2 separate regions of the Homo sapiens genome follow, and region 1 is linked to region 2. Evidence: fine-mapped expression QTL. Tissue or cell type: whole blood. Region 2 holds a variant in brackets; the other region holds the start of a gene. All regions are shown on one strand. Distances are between the middles of the regions. Region 1 holds the start of PPP2R1A (protein phosphatase 2 scaffold subunit Aalpha). Region 2 overlaps PPP2R1A (protein phosphatase 2 scaffold subunit Aalpha).

Region 1 (4,383 bases), 25 kb after region 2:
GAAGAGGAAACAGGCCTAGAGAGATTAACTAACTTGCCCTTGTCAATCAGTAACAAGTGGAAGGGCCGGGAATACAACCACAACCTGTATGCCACCAGAAACAGTGATATACCAGGAACCTAGGAGGCGAGACCCACGTTTGGCAGGTTACCCAGTGCACCTTGTCCAATTTTATAAATGGGAAAACAGACCTAAAGGGAGGATGGGACCTCTTTAATCACCACTCCCAATAATTACAGCTAATATTTATCGAGCCCTTACAACAGGCCTGACACCATTCTACTTTTTATTTGTGTCATAATTCGTTCAGTCCCTCACAAGTCCCTCCAGCAAGACCAGGACTACAATTAGCCCATATTTTATGGAACACAGAGACCCAAAGCGGTGAAGTAATTTGCACAAGGTCACACAGCAGGTGGGAGGTGGACTTGCAGTTCTAACTGTTCTCAATCCCACACCAGCCCGGCTCAGAGCCTTGGGTCACCTCATCCCATAACCAGGAATGTTCATCCGGGCTGGGCGCGGTGGCTCACGCCTGTAATTCCAACACTTTGGGAGGCCGAGGCGGGTGGATCGCTTGAGGTCAAGAGTTCCCGACCAAGCCTGGCCAACATGGTGAAACCCCGTCTCTGCTAAAAATACAAAAATTAGTCGGGCGTGGTGGCTCGCGCCGGTAATCGCAGCTAATTAGGGAGCTGAGGGGCGAGGATGGTTTGAACCCGGTATGCAGAGGTTGCACTGAGCCGAGATCGCGCCACTGCTCCCCAGCCCCAGCCTGGGCGACACAGAGACTGTCTCAAAAAAAAGAAATAAATAAATGTTCATCTGCTTAGCAAATCCCTCAACCCCTATCCTGGTCAATGGGAGGATCCGGGGAGATGGGGAGGCGGGTTTCTACAACCTAATTCGCTCCTAAACTTGGCTAGTCCCCACCTTTGGTGGGGGGGTGTTTTTGCGTCCCCGTCCTCTTAGGACACCTAAACCAAAATGAGAGGCGGAGGAAGAGCAGGAATTAGGATGGCAGGCCTTCGCCTCTCGGTCCCCACTTGGCCCAGCAGTCGAAACCCAGAAAACAAAAAAACCTTCCCAGGTCCCGACCCACCCGGCGGCCCTCCCCTACTTGGAGCAAGTCATGCGCGCCCCACATCCCCAAGAGGCCATTCAGAGGCCGCCGCCAATCACGGAGTCCTCCTCTCTCCCAGACCCAGTCCGCAGACCCCAGCCCTGGCCACAACCTCCCAGGACCGCGGACCGCCGCGCGCACAGGGCAGGCCCGGGACCCTCGAGGCTAGCGCTGGCCCCCGCCCTCCACTGGGCCGACACCCAATCGGGAGCGCCGTCTCAAGGAGTCCGGGCAACCGGGGAGATAAGAGACGCACGCTGATTGGCCGTCGCCCCCTTCCGCCACTCCCAGCGAACGCTGAGTCTTCTCCGCGAGGGCCGCCCGTGCCCCCAGGTACCCCTCCGCGTCTTCCCCAAGTCCCCCGTAGCCTCCGGACCTGAACGTCCTCATTGCGGAGTTCGTCTATGAGCACCGCGATGGGGTACAGCGAGTCGTCGCCGTCGGCCGCCGCCATCTTGGCTCCGTCCCTTTCCTGTCAGACTGCGGCCAGCGCTGTGCTGAAACGTGGGGGGGGCAATGCTGGGAGAAGAAGGAAGGGCGGGCGTGGGGGCGCCCGAGCCAGTTTACAGGGGCTGCTCCACGGCCATTGGCCGCGCTACCCAGGGCTAAGCTCGCGTTTCTTTGGTCCGGACTTGTGAAGTCCCGCCCACTTCCGATTTGCCATTGGTCGAGTGAACAAGATTTGACTAGTTTGAGCCTAGGAGAGGGGGAAGAAAGCGGAAGTTAGCCGTGTCCTAGCGACCAAGATTGTACCCGCCCTGGTCGCTGCTAACAACGACCGAGACGAGCAGTAGTTTCTAGCCAATGAGGGGCGACATGGGGAGGAGGCTAAGCCTGCCCTTTCTTGAGTCCCCGGGAAGGCTTCTGCGCGTGCGTCGGTGGTAATACGTGACGTCCTGTGGGGAGCTGGAGGGTGTGCAGGTTTTGGGTTACCAGGCCGTGGTTCCGCTGGCTGGCTGGCTGGCTCTCCGCGCCGTTGCGCGGCAGGAGGAGGGAGTGAGACTTTGATTTGTGCTTGATTTATGCCAAGGCCCAGAGAAGGGAGCGACTTGCCCTTCTCTCTTTTTTCTTTTTCTTTCTTTTTTTTTTTTTTTTTTTTTTACTTTTTTAAAGACAGGGTCTCGCTCTGTTGCCCAGACTGTAGTGCAGTGGCAGGATCTTGGCTCACTGCCGCCTGGACCTCCCCGAGCTCAAATGATCCTCTCGCCTCAGCCTGCAGAAATAGCTGGGACTATCGGCGCGCGCCGCTAGGCCCGGCCAATTTTTAAAAAAATGTTTGTGGAGACCGAGTCTCACTGTGTTGAGCTCAGTTGCCTTGCTGTTTGGATGAAACCCAAGCCCCTCGGGCTGGTATTCAATACCCTGTCTAGGCGCGTCTCCCATCTGTTTTTTACCTTTTATCTGATGTCCTGGAGAATTACAGCTGCCTGAGCACTTCTTGCGTTTTCATGCCAGCAAGCCTCCTTGCCCAAGCTGTGCGTTCTGCTAGGGGTGCCTTTCATATTCACTTCTGAGATCTCTGCATAAATGCCTCCCCTTTACTCCCTTTCCTCTCTGTCTTCAGGCTCTGTTCTCTAGGCTTCCAGAGCCACAGAACCCCTCTCTCTGTCTCTCCAGTCCCATCTATCTCTCTGTCTCTCCAATCCCATCTCTCTCTCTCTCTCTCTCCAATCCAATCTCTCTCTCTGTCTCTCAATCCCAGAGCCTGGGCTGTGACTATGTATTCGAATTTGTTTCCTCCATAGAGTGGGAGCAGGATTGGATCTGACTAATCTCTGTTTTTAACCTCTTCAACACAGCCCTACCCCCCCACCGCAATCTTAGGACCACTCTAACTGAGGGAGTTGAATGGGGATGGGAAGGCCTGGGATGCTCTTTCCTCCTTTATTCTGCTACTTGAAGGGCTAGGCTGAGCTAGCACTCTGACAGATCTGAATACCCACAGCATCTATTTCTTTTTTCTTCTTTTTCTTTTTCTTTTTTTTTTTTTGAGACGGAGTCTCGCTCTGTTGCCCAGGCTAGAATGCAGGGGCCCGATCTCGGCATACTACAGCCTCTGTCTCCTGGGTTCAAACAATTATCCTGTCTCAGCCTCCAGAGTACCTGGGATTACAGGCGCCTACCACAACGCCCGGTTAATTTTTGTATTTTTAGTAGAGACGGGGTTTCACCACTTTGGGCCAGGCTGGTCTCAAACTCCTGACCTCAGGGTGATCTGCCTGCCTTGGCTTCCCAAAGTGCTGGGATTACAGGTGTGAGCCACCGCACCCGGCCTTTTTTTTGAGGCGGAGTTTCGCTCTTGTTGCCCCGGCTGAAGTGCAGTGGCTCAATCTCTGCTCACTGCAACCTCCACCTCTCGGGTTCAAGCGATTCTTCTGCCTCAGCCTCCGGAGTAGCTGGAATTTACAGGCATGAGCCACCACGCCCGGCTAATTTTGTATTTTTAGTAGAGACGGGGTTTCACCGTGTTGGCTGTCTTTGGTCTCGAACTCCTGACCTCAGGTGATCCGCCCACTTGGACTTCCCAGAGCGCTGGGATTACAGGTGTGAGCCACCGTGCCCGGCCCAGCATCTATTTCAAATACCCTTACCCACTGCAGTTAGGAAACTGCTGCTCATAAAAGTGGGGATGGGGTTGAATATTTCAGTCCCAGCCCTCCCTATTCCCAGGACTCCTCTCAGCCCCAAGGTCTCTGAGGCTAGGGATCTTTTTAGCTATGCGTGCCTGTCTTGGTGTCAGGCTGCTTGGGATGTTGGGCTGGTGGCCTTTGAAGTGCTTAGGGCCTAGGAATTTTCAGAGGCTTAAATGAGGCATTATAAATCTCAGAAACAAAATAAAAACAAATTATGGATTCCAAAATGCAAAACAAAACTGCAAACTTTAATAAGTATTTAACAAATACCTATACAAATCAATACCTATACAGATCAATACCTATACAGATCAATACCTATACAGATCAATACCTATACAAATCAATACCTATACAGATCAATGCCAGTGATAATAGCTACAGTAAAGTGTATTCAGTAAATTAATTCATTTAACCCTGACAATAACTCTATGATATATGTAAAGTAGCAGCATCATCCTAATTTAATGGATGAGGAAACCGAGGCATAGAGAACTTTAGGAATTTGTCCAAGTTCTCATAGATGGTAATAGTGGTGCTGGAATTTGTTTGTTTGTTTGAGACAGGGTCTTGCCTTGTTGCCTAGGCTGGGAGTGTAGGGACGCAATCTGTTCTGTGCTCAGTGCA
Region 2 (4,383 bases):
CAGGACCCCTAACTGCTTGAAACCCAAGAGCTGCCTGGTCCCAGAGGGCTGGGAACCTAGTTTGCAGCTGACTATCCCCAAAGCCTTGTCTCCAGCCCCTCTTTTTGGCAGGCTCGGATCCACTTGGTTCCTCCCATCAAACTCTCTGTTACCTTGATGCAGGGCAAGATCTGGGACATGATCACATTCTCCCGACAGTCAGCTGAGAGGTTTTCACAGAACTCTGTGGGCAGGGAGAGGGAGGCAAAGGGAAGTGAGACCTGATGTGCTAGTTCCACCTCCAGCCCCTTGGATACCCACCCCACTTGCTGTGTTCCGGCTGCCAGCACCAACCTTTGACCTTGTGGGAGGCTGCGGCCCTCACCTCGGCCTCACAGTCTTTCATCAGGTTCTGGAAGGCAGGGACCAGGTCTGTCTTGGTGATCTCAGGCCCCACTGCTTTCTGGAGCTGCAGACAGGAAGGAGGAGGGGGAGAGTGAGAGGGGCTGGCAGTTTACTCTGGGCTAAGGAAGCCAAAATCAAAGTGAAGGCACCAGAATTAGGGGACAGAGCGTGGGCCTTGGAAGCAGTGCTAAAATCTAATTCGAGTGCCAAGACTGGCCCCGGGGCAAGGCTCTTCACCTCGCTGAGCCTCTTTTGCTTCCAAAGAAAAATGAGGACTGCGAGGGCACCTACCTCACGGTGTTGTCAGCATTAAAAATAACACATTTCCATATTATTCAGGCTACTGAGGTTAAGTTTTCTGTTACCTGATTCAAAAACATTCAAATGATATAGTGACTGCAACTTTTTGATTTATATATGGCTGTATTTCTTAAAGATCTGTTACCAGAAGCACGAATTACTTTTGTAATGAAAATAAAACAATAGGCCAAGTGCGATGGCTCATGCCTATAATCCCAGCACTTTGGGAAGCTGAGGTGGACAGATCGCTTGAGTCCCAGAGAACAAGACCAGCCCGGGCAACACAGTGAAACCCTGACTCTACAAAAAAAACAAAACAATTAGCCGGGTGTGGGGGCAGGCACCTATCGTCCTAGCTACTCAGAAGGCTGAAGTGGGAGGATCACCTGAGCCCAGGAGGTCAAGGCTGCAGTGAGCCGTGACTGTGCCACTGCACTCCAGCCTGGGTGATGGTGTGAGACCCTGTCTCAAAATAAAAATAAAACAATAAAGATTGACAGAAAGGAAGGCACTCTAGGGCTGGGCGTAGTGGCTTACACCTGTAATCCCAGCGCTTTGGGAGACAGAGGTGGGTGGATCACTTGAGGCCAGGAATTCGAGACCAGCCTGGCCAACATGGTGAAACCCCATCTCTACTAAAAATACAAAATTAGCTGGGTGTGGTGGTGCACACCTGTAATTCCAGCTACTCAGGAGGCTAAGGCACGAGAATCACTTGAGTCTGGGAGGTGGAGGTTGCAGTCAGCTGAGCTTGTGCCACCGTACTCCAGCCTGGGCAAAAGACTGAGACTCTGTCTTAAAAAAAAAAAAAAAGGGAGGCACGCTTGGCCCTGCCTGTTTCATGGCACCAGGCATGGAAAGACGCACGGCTCCTGCTGCAAAGCTGGTTCCTGAAGACCTGGTAGGAAGCAGGACAGTTCATTATGAAGACGGGAATGAACAAGTAAAAATCTTGAAGGACCTCATGATATCTTGGGAAAATACTGCCTTTTATTCATCTTGCAAATATTTACTGAATGTCTACTATGTGCCAAGAACTGGTTTAACAGCCTAAAATTCCTGCCCTCATGGAATTTTTATTCTAAGACCCAGTGTGACACAGTTTATGCAGCTCAGGAGACAAGGATGGGAAGAACCTTCCCTAACTGTGGTGATGGTACGCTATTCTGAAGCTCTGAGTCCTTCCCGCAAATGCCAGTGGGAACCAGCATAATTAAAGGCAAAGGGCGCCTCAGGGTGGAGTGGCACTCAAGGCCTCTCTGATCCCACCCTGCCCTCTCTCCGATCCCACCCTGCCCTCTCTCCTGCTTTCTCTCAGGCTGGGCCATCAAGATCAGGCCTGAATGTTCCTGCTTGCACTTGCTCTCACCTCCCAGGGTTCTTTGTCCTCTGGCTGGAACAAAGTTCCTATCTTAGCTCTTACCCACTCATCTTCTAGAACCAGCTGTAACACCACCTCCCCTCCTCAATGCTTCCAAGGCCCCACATCTGTCTGTCTGTCCCACACCTGTGACACTTTATAATCAAATTTCCCCTAAGTCAGTCTTCCCCTTCAGACTGCCT[A/G]GCTCCATGAAGGCCAGGAATGATCCGAATTCACTGGCCCAGCAAATAGCTGGTGCTCAGCAAACATGTTTGTGGGATGAGGCAATCTGGATCCCTGTGGAAGGAGCACTGTCCTGAGAGTCACAGACCTGGAGTCTTGTCCCCTTTCTGCCTGGCTGGTAGTGTCACTCTGATCAGTTAATTAAACTTTCCGGGGCTGGGCGCGGTGGCTAACACCTGTAATCCCAGCACTTTGGGAGATGAAGGCAGGCGGATCGCTTGAGGTCAGGAGTTCGAGACTAGCCTGGCTAACAACATGGTGAAACCCCGTCTCTAATAAAAATACAAAAACTAGCCGGGTGTCGTGGTGGGCATCTGTAATCCCAGTCCCTCAGGAGGCTGAGGCAGGAGAAATGCCTGCACCCGGGAGGGACAGGCTGCAGTGAGCCAAGATTGCGCCACCACACTCCAGCTGGGTAACAAGACTCTAGCCTGGGCGACAGACTCCATCTTAAAAAAAAAAAAAAAAAAAAAAAAAAAAAACACCAAAAAACCCCACCTTTTTGGGCTGTCTTCCCCTTTGTGAAAGGACAGCTTGATTATGTCAGGAACACCCCACATGTGCTACCCTTCTCTGCTCCTGTGGCACTTTCCTCCACGTAGCCTTAACTTTGCCTCAGAATCTTTCTCAAGGCAGCACTTTAAGATGCCATGTCAATCAACCAGGATTGGCACACGAAGCGAGACGCAGTTAGATGATCATAGAGATCTTATTGCTCAAACGCCCAATGGTTCCATCGGCCTAATGGAAACCTCAGCTCCTATATGCTTCCCTTCTGAGAGTGTCAGTGTCCCCACCAGTGGGACAATGTCAACGGTCGCTCATCTACCTCTGTGAACTTGTCAGCCACCATGTAGCGGACGCGCCAGGACTTGTCTTCAGCGGCCTGGCGCAGAGTGGGCATCACCAGGGCCTCCAGATCCTCCTGGGGCAGAAGCTGGGCGATGTTCACGCACGCCTCCACCGCCAGCAGCCGCACCGAGTCCTAGGGAGAGGAGAGGAACAGTGGGAGGGCAGCAGAGGCCTTGCTGAGCTCTGGGATTCTCTTTCATGGGCAGGAACCACCAGAAGGACGGGAGAGCAGAGGGCCAGGAAGCAAAACTCACCTGCTCGTCAGAGGCCAGGTTGGAGAACATGGGGATGATCTCACTCTTGACGTTGTCCAGCTCCAGCACCTTGGCAAACTCCCCCAGCTTGGAGGCTGCGGCCCGCCGCACCATGGGGGTGTCATCTGAGCACAGGTTCCGGAAGTACCTGGGAGTCGGGGACGGGGATCCTGAGGCAGCAGGCAGTATGGCAGAGAGGAGCAAGCACAGACTCTGCAGTTGTGTGGGTCCAGGTTTTAGCTGAATGACCTTGGGCAAGTGATGACCCCCTCTCTGTCTTCCCAGCCCTATGAAACGGAGCTGATAGTAACAGTACCTACCCCACAGGTCCGCATGAGGTTTAAATGAAAATAGTGTGTGTGAGACACTTCGCAGATTGCGCATAATAAATCTAGTCAATGCTAAGTGCTGACGATTACATCATTCCCATAAAAATTGCTTAACCAACGAGCCAGGCACAGTGGCTCATACCTGTAATCTGAACACTTTGGAAGACCAAGGCAGGAGGATTGCTTGAGCCCAGGAGTTCAAGACCAGCCTGAGCAACATAGTGAGACCCCATCTCTGCCAAAAATAAAAAATGAGCCCAGCGTGGTGTTGCACACCTGTGGTCCCAGCTATTTGAGAGGCTAAGGCAGGAGGAATGCTTGAGCCCAGGAGGTTGAGGCTGCAGTGGGCTATGACTGCACCAGTGCACTTCAGCCTGGATGACAGAGCGAGATCCTATCTCAAAAAACAAACAAACAAAAAACTGCTTAACTAAGAGGCAGGTCTAGAGCCACAGAAAGGCTTTATTTTTCAGCAGCAATTGCTTCGATCAAAGGCGGTGGGGGCCAGTGTAAGTATCTAAGCAAGTGTACAGCCATAAACCAGAGTTCTGGAGTGAGTCAGGCTCAAACCCGGGCTTGACGGTCAATCGTTTGCAAAGTAGACGAGCAGGAGGCTGAAAACTGAGGTGGTTTATCTGCCAAAGGCACTGGACCTGGGACA

The links. PIP is the estimated chance that this variant, and not a neighbour inherited with it, causes the effect.
Region 1: it holds the start of PPP2R1A, and the variant in region 2 is the best candidate, but not a certain one, in a credible set for the expression of PPP2R1A in whole blood (TOPMed, PIP 0.65).

What each region holds. Positions count from the first base shown.
Region 1 is chr19:52,187,291-52,191,673 of GRCh38, reverse strand. PPP2R1A (protein phosphatase 2 scaffold subunit Aalpha) reads right to left here and starts at 1,622. Exons shown (of 15, transcript NM_014225.6): 1 at 1,500-1,622. The coding sequence starts at 1,577. RefSeq lists enhancers at 1,407-1,646, 1,097-2,064, 1,977-2,196, 2,207-2,256, 2,287-2,416 and 1 more.
Region 2 is chr19:52,211,844-52,216,226 of GRCh38, reverse strand. PPP2R1A (protein phosphatase 2 scaffold subunit Aalpha) reads right to left here. Exons shown (of 15, transcript NM_014225.6): 5 at 3,394-3,541; 6 at 3,117-3,272; 7 at 334-448; 8 at 153-223. Among named protein-coding and RNA genes, the nearest start is that of MIR6801, 8.0 kb to the left of the region's middle. The variant A/G (reference allele first, on the strand shown) is at 2,248.